Linked DNA regions of Homo sapiens. The protein of the gene in region 1 interacts with the protein of each later gene in a pairwise test. Each region holds a gene or a part of one and is shown on either strand. Other genes may lie near its edges.

What was found. The genes of interacting proteins can lie anywhere in the genome.
Region 2: the proteins of FKBP6 (region 1) and BDNF interact in binary tests that used the Homo sapiens proteins (3 or more experiments, as listed by UniProt).

What each region holds. Positions count from the first base shown.
Region 1 is NC_000007.14:73,334,627-73,338,175, reverse strand, and holds part of FKBP6 (inactive peptidyl-prolyl cis-trans isomerase FKBP6), read right to left. Parts: intron 1-3,549. UniProt on the Homo sapiens protein: Has an essential role in spermatogenesis. It is required to repress transposable elements and prevent their mobilization, which is essential for the germline integrity.
Region 2 is NC_000011.10:27,690,454-27,694,002, forward strand, and holds part of BDNF (neurotrophic factor BDNF precursor form isoform a preproprotein), read right to left. Parts: intron 688-3,549; exon of another isoform or gene 653-687; intron 1-652. UniProt on the Homo sapiens protein: Important signaling molecule that activates signaling cascades downstream of NTRK2. During development, promotes the survival and differentiation of selected neuronal populations of the peripheral and central nervous systems.

The sequences.
Region 1 (3,549 bases):
CAGGTGCCTGTAATCCCAGCTACTTGGGAGGCTGAGGCAGGAGAATCGCTTGAACCTGGGAGGCAGAGGTTGCAGTGAGCCGAGATCGTGCCACTGCACTCCAGCCTGGGCAACAGGGACTCTGTCTCATAAAAAACAAAAAACAAAAAAAGAATGAGGTTTGTACAAGCTACAACATGGATAAACCTCAAAAACATGCTAAGTGAAATAAGACAGCCACAAAATGACACATATTTGACAATTCTAGTTACAAAATATGTCCTGAATAGGCAAATCCATAGAAACAAAGGAGAACAGAGGCTATCTGAGGCCAAAGAATTGTGAGTTTCATTTCGGGGTGAGGAAAATGTTCTGGAATTAGATAGTGGCAATGGCTGCACAACTTTGTGAATATACTAAAAACCACTGAATTGGACACTTTAAAAGCACACATTTTATGGTATGTGAATCATATCTCAACAACAAGAAAAAAAATAGTAAAACAAAAAAAAATGGATGAAGGCAGAGCCTGCACTCCCTGGAACTCCATTTGGAAGGTGCAAGTAGAATGGAAGAACTGGAAGGCCGGACACGATGGCTCACACCTGGAATCCCAGCACTTTGGGAGACCGAGGCGGGCGGATCACCTGAGGTCAGGAGTTCAAGATCAGCCTGGCCAACATGGAAACCCCACCTCTACTAAAAATACAAAAAATGAGCTGGATGTGGTAGCAGGCGCTTGTAATCTCAGCTACTTGGGAGGCTGAGGCAGGAGAATCCCTTGAACCTGGGAGGCGGAGGTTGTAGTGAGGCCGAGATGGCGCCAGTACACTCCAGCCTGGGTGATAGAGTGAGACTCTGTCTCAAAAAAAAAAAAAAAAAAAAAAGAACATGGAAGAACTGGAGAAAATGTGTCAGGAGATGGCAGCACAGGCAGAAAGTCATGAGCCTTCCTTGGTCCTCCCTTCCATCTCTAAACTCTGGGCATTCACCAGGCAAGTTCCCATCAACTGTCTCCATACCTTCTGAATGGATTCAGCTCCCATTCACATCACCAGCTGGAACCTCACGCCTGAACCCTGCTCTCATACCCAAATGAAATTGTGAAGCAAGTTGTCAGCTGGAAACAGTTTTCTACAGGCCCTGCTTACCTGCTCATTCCCATGAGTAATCAAAATTGAAAGTAACACATTTCTTTCCCAGTTATTCCTTGGTTTAAATTTTTTTCTCAGACCAGGAAGTTTCAAGTCATTCCCTTCTTCTGTTTCCTTGATCTCTTATATATACAACTTCATCATATACAACGTCATCAAGTCTAACCATCCATTTTGTGGAAGTACTTCCAGAGCTTTTTCTTCTATTTGCACAACTCACAGCTGCTTTAACACATTCCTGGACCCTGTTAACAGGTTCAGCCGCAGCACACCCAGCACGGTGCCTAACATGAAACAGAGCCTCATTAAAATGAAGTTTGTCATTTGACATGTCCTGCACACAGTGGTGTGCTGGTACATGTTTAATAGCCAGCTCTCGGGGGAGGTGGACCCCTGTTTGTAGCATTTGCCTATTCCTATGCTGTAAATATTCCTCCCAGAGCTGATTTCAAACTACCAAAGTGACATTAACGAGGGCACAAAACTCCTGAAAATTTTACAATTGAAATTTTGAGTTTTCACGAGCTCCAGCACAACTACTGCCTCTTCCCCGAATATGACTTTTATCAACACACTCTTCCTCAGTGGTTCCCTGCCATCCACTTCATCAAGTCCAAATCCATCCACACATATTTGAATGTCTTCCTGAATCTGGCCGCCTCCTATCACCTATGATTCCTTAGATGTAACCTATGTTTCTGACTAGGAATCTACCAACTGTGGCCTGAATAGGTTCTGATCACTTTGTTCATCTTTTTTCCTGCCGAGAATTTATGGTGGAAAGGACAAGACAGCTCTCAGGGACCTCTTTTATAAGGCCACTAACTCCATGTAAGAGGGTTTCATCTTCATGACCTCATCATCTCCCAGAGGCCTCACCTCTTAATATCACATGGATGATTAGGTTTCAACATACACATTTTGGGGAGACACAAACATTCAGACCATAGGTATTGGTTAGCTGTTGGAGCTGCATTTAACTCCCTAACTAGATTCAAATCCCTTGAAAGCAGGAAACCCCATACTTGTGTGACCCAGACAATGCTGAGCAAAAGGTGGAGACACAGTGGTGCTGACAATGTCAGTCCGCTGCTCCAAAGACGGAGAAACTTTCCACTAGGAAAAGACGTGCAAAACCTCTGGCTCAGCAAGGCAGGCTCCACACACATCCCTACTTTCTCCAACCCTAAGGGACTAAGACAGGTAGTACTCCAACACAAGCAAAGGACAGGAAAAGGACCAATAAACCCAAAGGTTCAGGGTGGGTGGCAGTGTGATGACTGATTTGGCAGAGTGGTGCCAATGTAAAAGGGACCGGTCTGCCCCTCAGAGCCTGGAGAGACCTAGGAACTGATGGAACCAGGAATTAGAGCTATCTGGTGGGGCTGAATAAAGGAGGTCAGGTCAAATGTTCCCCACCCCGTCCACTGCCCCTATGTGTCCAGATGGCCTCAGCAATCACGAGGTCTCCTTTCTGGGAAAATGGAACCAAAGAGGCCCTTGACTTGGGGGCAGGCTGGAGCAGACAGCAGGAAGGTGGTATACTGGTAACGCGGCTATGAAAAGGAATCTCAATACCAGACAGTGAGAACCTCTGTCCTGCTGCCCAGCTTGGCTCCCAGAATGCCGGTCCCTTGGCACACACACGGGGCAGAAAGAGGAGGACTCAATGGACCCTGAGGAAACACCTACATACTCTAATGTGTGCAGGCTGTCTTTGACCACACTGCAACCTGCCCCACCAAGCACCTGGAGCTCCCAATCAGCTTTGTGATGTCTCTTTTAAATCTTAGTGGTCAAAGATCACCAGCCATTTGAGGAAACCCTCTGTGAAAGAGGTGGCCTCCTGCCTCCCAGCAGCTGCCCTCCCTTCCTTCACAGTAATAGGACTTTTTTTTTTTTTTTTTTTGGCCAGGAACACGTACAACCAGAATTTAGATATTTGCTAGGCTTCTTTGCAGCTAGGCAAAGCCTGGAGAACAGGTTCTGGAAAACATAATTCAGTAGAAGCATCATATGACAAGGACCTTCCTTAACAGAGCTGTACATGCCTTCAGCCTTTCTTCCCTTCTGCTGCTAGAACTCAGAGACCCTCATCTTGGACTACAAGGCCAGAGTCTCACCCCAGAAATGAGAACTGGGTATCTGAAAATATCTGCAGCAGAGTCACCAACTGGCCCTAGCTTGCATGCCTCTACTCTAGCCTTTTACATGAGTGAGAAATAAACCATCTTTAGGTCATTGACAAACTTAGTGCAAAAGGACACAGTCCCCAATATGTAGAAAAACCAAACAGAAAAAGAATGAGATTAAATTATAATCGACAGTCTAAATATATAAAATAATATACACATGAAACAAGAACAGAATGCTAGGGAGGGGAAGAACAAATAGCCCTTCAATTTTCTAAAATTTA
Region 2 (3,549 bases), on another chromosome or scaffold:
CACACAAACTATGCACAAGTTTGCTTCCATGTTGTATAGCAAGAGTTTAAATATTTCTGAGTTAATGATGCCAAACTGTGCTCCGATTATATCAGCATATTTACATGATCCTTGAACACCACATATAGATTCCTATACTACACATTTAAGCAAAATCACCTCCTGACTTCACAATGAAAGAGACCTATTGGATTAAAAAGTGGTTTCTAGTAAACCCCAAAGAGATACTGTTACTAAATTACTAAATTTAAAGGCAAAATAGTATTCACTAAACTGATTTTTCTGTCTTATTTTCCTTATTTGGCATAATCATTAACCAACTTCTAGTAAATGGAAGCATTCTCACAATTTAAGTTTTTTTAGGGGGAAACACACAATTTATAAATACTGTCAAGTGAAGAACAGATTCCTGAATACTAAAAGACCCATGCATATCCTTGTATGTAAAAAAAAAAAAAATCCATCATAAAATCATAGACTCAAACACCATCTTTGATTCAGTAGTTCTCCCTCTACTGTGGCTTCTGCTATAGAGTCATTGTTAAAAAGAGTTCTTCATGAAAGATTCTCACATAGCAAAATGCTTTAAGAAAATGTCTAACAAACATTTTTATTGTCTCAATTTGTACACAAACTGACACCTGAAAATCAGAGAGGATAAAGAACTTCAATCTTTAAAAAAGAGAGGTAAGTTATTCCAAAATGCTACCAGTCAATAATTAAAAATACAGTTTGGGGGCAAGAAGTTCTGAAATAACTCAGAGAACTTGCTCAAGATTTTACTTTTGGACCAGTCCTCTTTGGGAGGGAGTATGTGAATAGGTAATGAAAGCCTTATATGAGAGAGTCAATGGAGAGCCATATCAAGGAGCACCTGAAGATATATGGATCAATACAGGGAAAAGAAATCCAAGTAGCCCAGTGCCTGACACTCACTGGGCACTCAATTAATGCACGGTGAATTAACAAATGAATTAATGAAAGAACCATTTGCTACATATAACATTCTTACTTTAAGAAAAAAGAATTTGAAACAGAAGAAAACATACACGCAAGAACACATACAAACTATAAACTATATGATATCCTAAAGGAGATGTAAATATTAAACTGTTTGCTTTGCTGACTGACACTATTAATACCTAAAAGCAGTATGAGAGATCACAAAGAATAAGTACTCATTCATACTTGGAGTGGGCTGCTCATCTTATGGTCTAACTTGCATTTTATGTCATGGCCATGTTGCTTAATCTCCAGCTGTTCTACAGAAGAGCAAAATAAGTTATAAATAAATTATTAAAGAAAAAAAGTAACTCTATCCATGCTGAGGCCTGAGGGAGTTGGGGGAGGAGTCAATTCCTTTTAGTTTATATTTAAAAAGAGAAACTCTTTGGAAAACTGTAATATCTGAAGATTTTGTGGTTTCCAAAAGTGAAGGTGAACGGTGAGAAGTTTTCTTAGTTTAGCTACTGAACCCTAAAAAAATATAACCTCAAAAGTTAATTTCTTAAGCAATTTGGGCACCTGAATTTGATAAGAACTTTTTTTTCCAGACATTCTGTTCTGTCTAACCCAAAGGAAAAATAGCCAATTTTGAGAATCTGTATACAAATAAGGAAAAGTAAAATACAGCGCTTTGCAAAGAAATGGGAGGGATTTCTGATACTCAATTCATGATGCTAAACACTTCAAGTAGATGATTCAAAGGCAGAAATATATAACTGTTCTCATTAGGATTGTTTATGGACTATAAATAAGGAGCAGACTTATGGCCAATGCATTAGAAAAAAACAAGTACAAAGGCACTTCAGAAAATACCTTACTCCAACCTCCCATTTTAGTGTCATTTCTAAAAGGGTTTCATTTCAGCCTTCCTACCTTTCTTCCTTCCTTCCCTTCCTTCCCTCCAACGGGGTCTCACTCTGTCACCCAGGCTGAAGAGCAGTGGGACAATCACGGCTCACTGCAGCCCCAACCTCCTGGGCTCAAACGATCCTACTGCCTCAGCCTCCCAAGTAGCTGGGACTACAAGTGCCTGTCACCAGGCTTGGATAATTTTTTTTGTCTTTTGTAAAGATGGGGTCTTGCTATGTTGTCCAGACTCGTAATGATCTCCTGGGCTCAAGTGATCCTCCCACCTCAGCCTCCCAGAGTGCTGGGATTACAGGCATGAGCCACCACACCAGACCTCTTTTTTCTTTATTATATATTCCTCTAATAAAGTGCTCTGTATGCAGTGAGCATTCAATATTTGCTAAATTAAATTAATGGAAAGTTTTCTAACTACCATGTAGAGTATCTAAATTTACATCATTGGTTCTAGAACTGCTGTCTGAAGCAACACAAATTACACTTATGACAGTTCGTCAAATCTTTGAAGCCCATCCTCAAAATAAGGATGTCAAAAATACATCACACATGTTGACACTCTAATCTCCCAGCCACAGTAGGCATTAGCAATCTGAATGTTATTTTTACTAATCCTTCACAGTTTTAGAATTCTTCTCAACCCAACATTCAAAAACCACTTGCCATTCCAGCCTAAGTTTTCTTGTCCCTAAGTCATGCATTCCAAGTCCCCTCAACCATTGCTCACATGCAATGCTTTCAAATTCCCTATGCATCCTGGTCACAGTGATTTGAATGTACACTAATTTATCGATGATGTACCTAAAACAACTTATTTCATTTCCTTGAACTGATGATAATATTCTAGATACAGTCTATTTAAAAAGTGAAGAATTATTAGCTTCTCCATTTCAGTATTATATTTCTAGCAGTGCAGCCCAAAATTTCAGTAGCTATGATAACAGCCTCTTGTCACACCACTGGCTTATACTGAACTTGCAGTTAATTTAAAACATTCAAGCTTCCTTTCTACAATCTGCTGATAAGTCATCCCCTAAAACCGTGCCCGCAACTCTCTATTCTCTCCTAAATTGATTTTTTTGTACTTAATCATAGTATTTTACATTTAAGTAAATGTAAATGATCCAGATTCTATCATTCAACAGAATGTCTGCAATATCTGCTGGCTTTATGTTTCATATGATAAGCATATCGTCTGTGCCTTCAGACACATTATCAGCCAACATGTCGGTGCTGGATGTATTTTCCCAATGTTGCATAAGAGGAATACCTTCGAGAGTTTGGCCTAGGAATGTGGCCTGGGACTCCGCCAAGCATCTCTCTCCAGCAAAATGACTGCAAATTTCTCGACCTTCAGATTCTACATGATGTAAAAGAAGTTTGTCTGTGTTTAAAAACACATTCAAGAAATAAGTGAACATGTGAAAAGACAGAAAAACTTGTTTTAATTTGGGCATAGTTTCAGTTTTCAAAGGCACATGAAGGCAGAAAGAAAGAATCACAAAATGGAACTACTGATGATAGCAACTCCAAAACCAAGACTGATTAGACTAAATCCCATGTGGCAAAAATTTTATTTAGTAAGTTTCCTTCTCCCTCTCTCCCTTTAGATATATGTGCATACACACACACGCACCTTTATTTTAGTAATTTTTTTTTTCTGAAAAAGAAAGTTTTCTG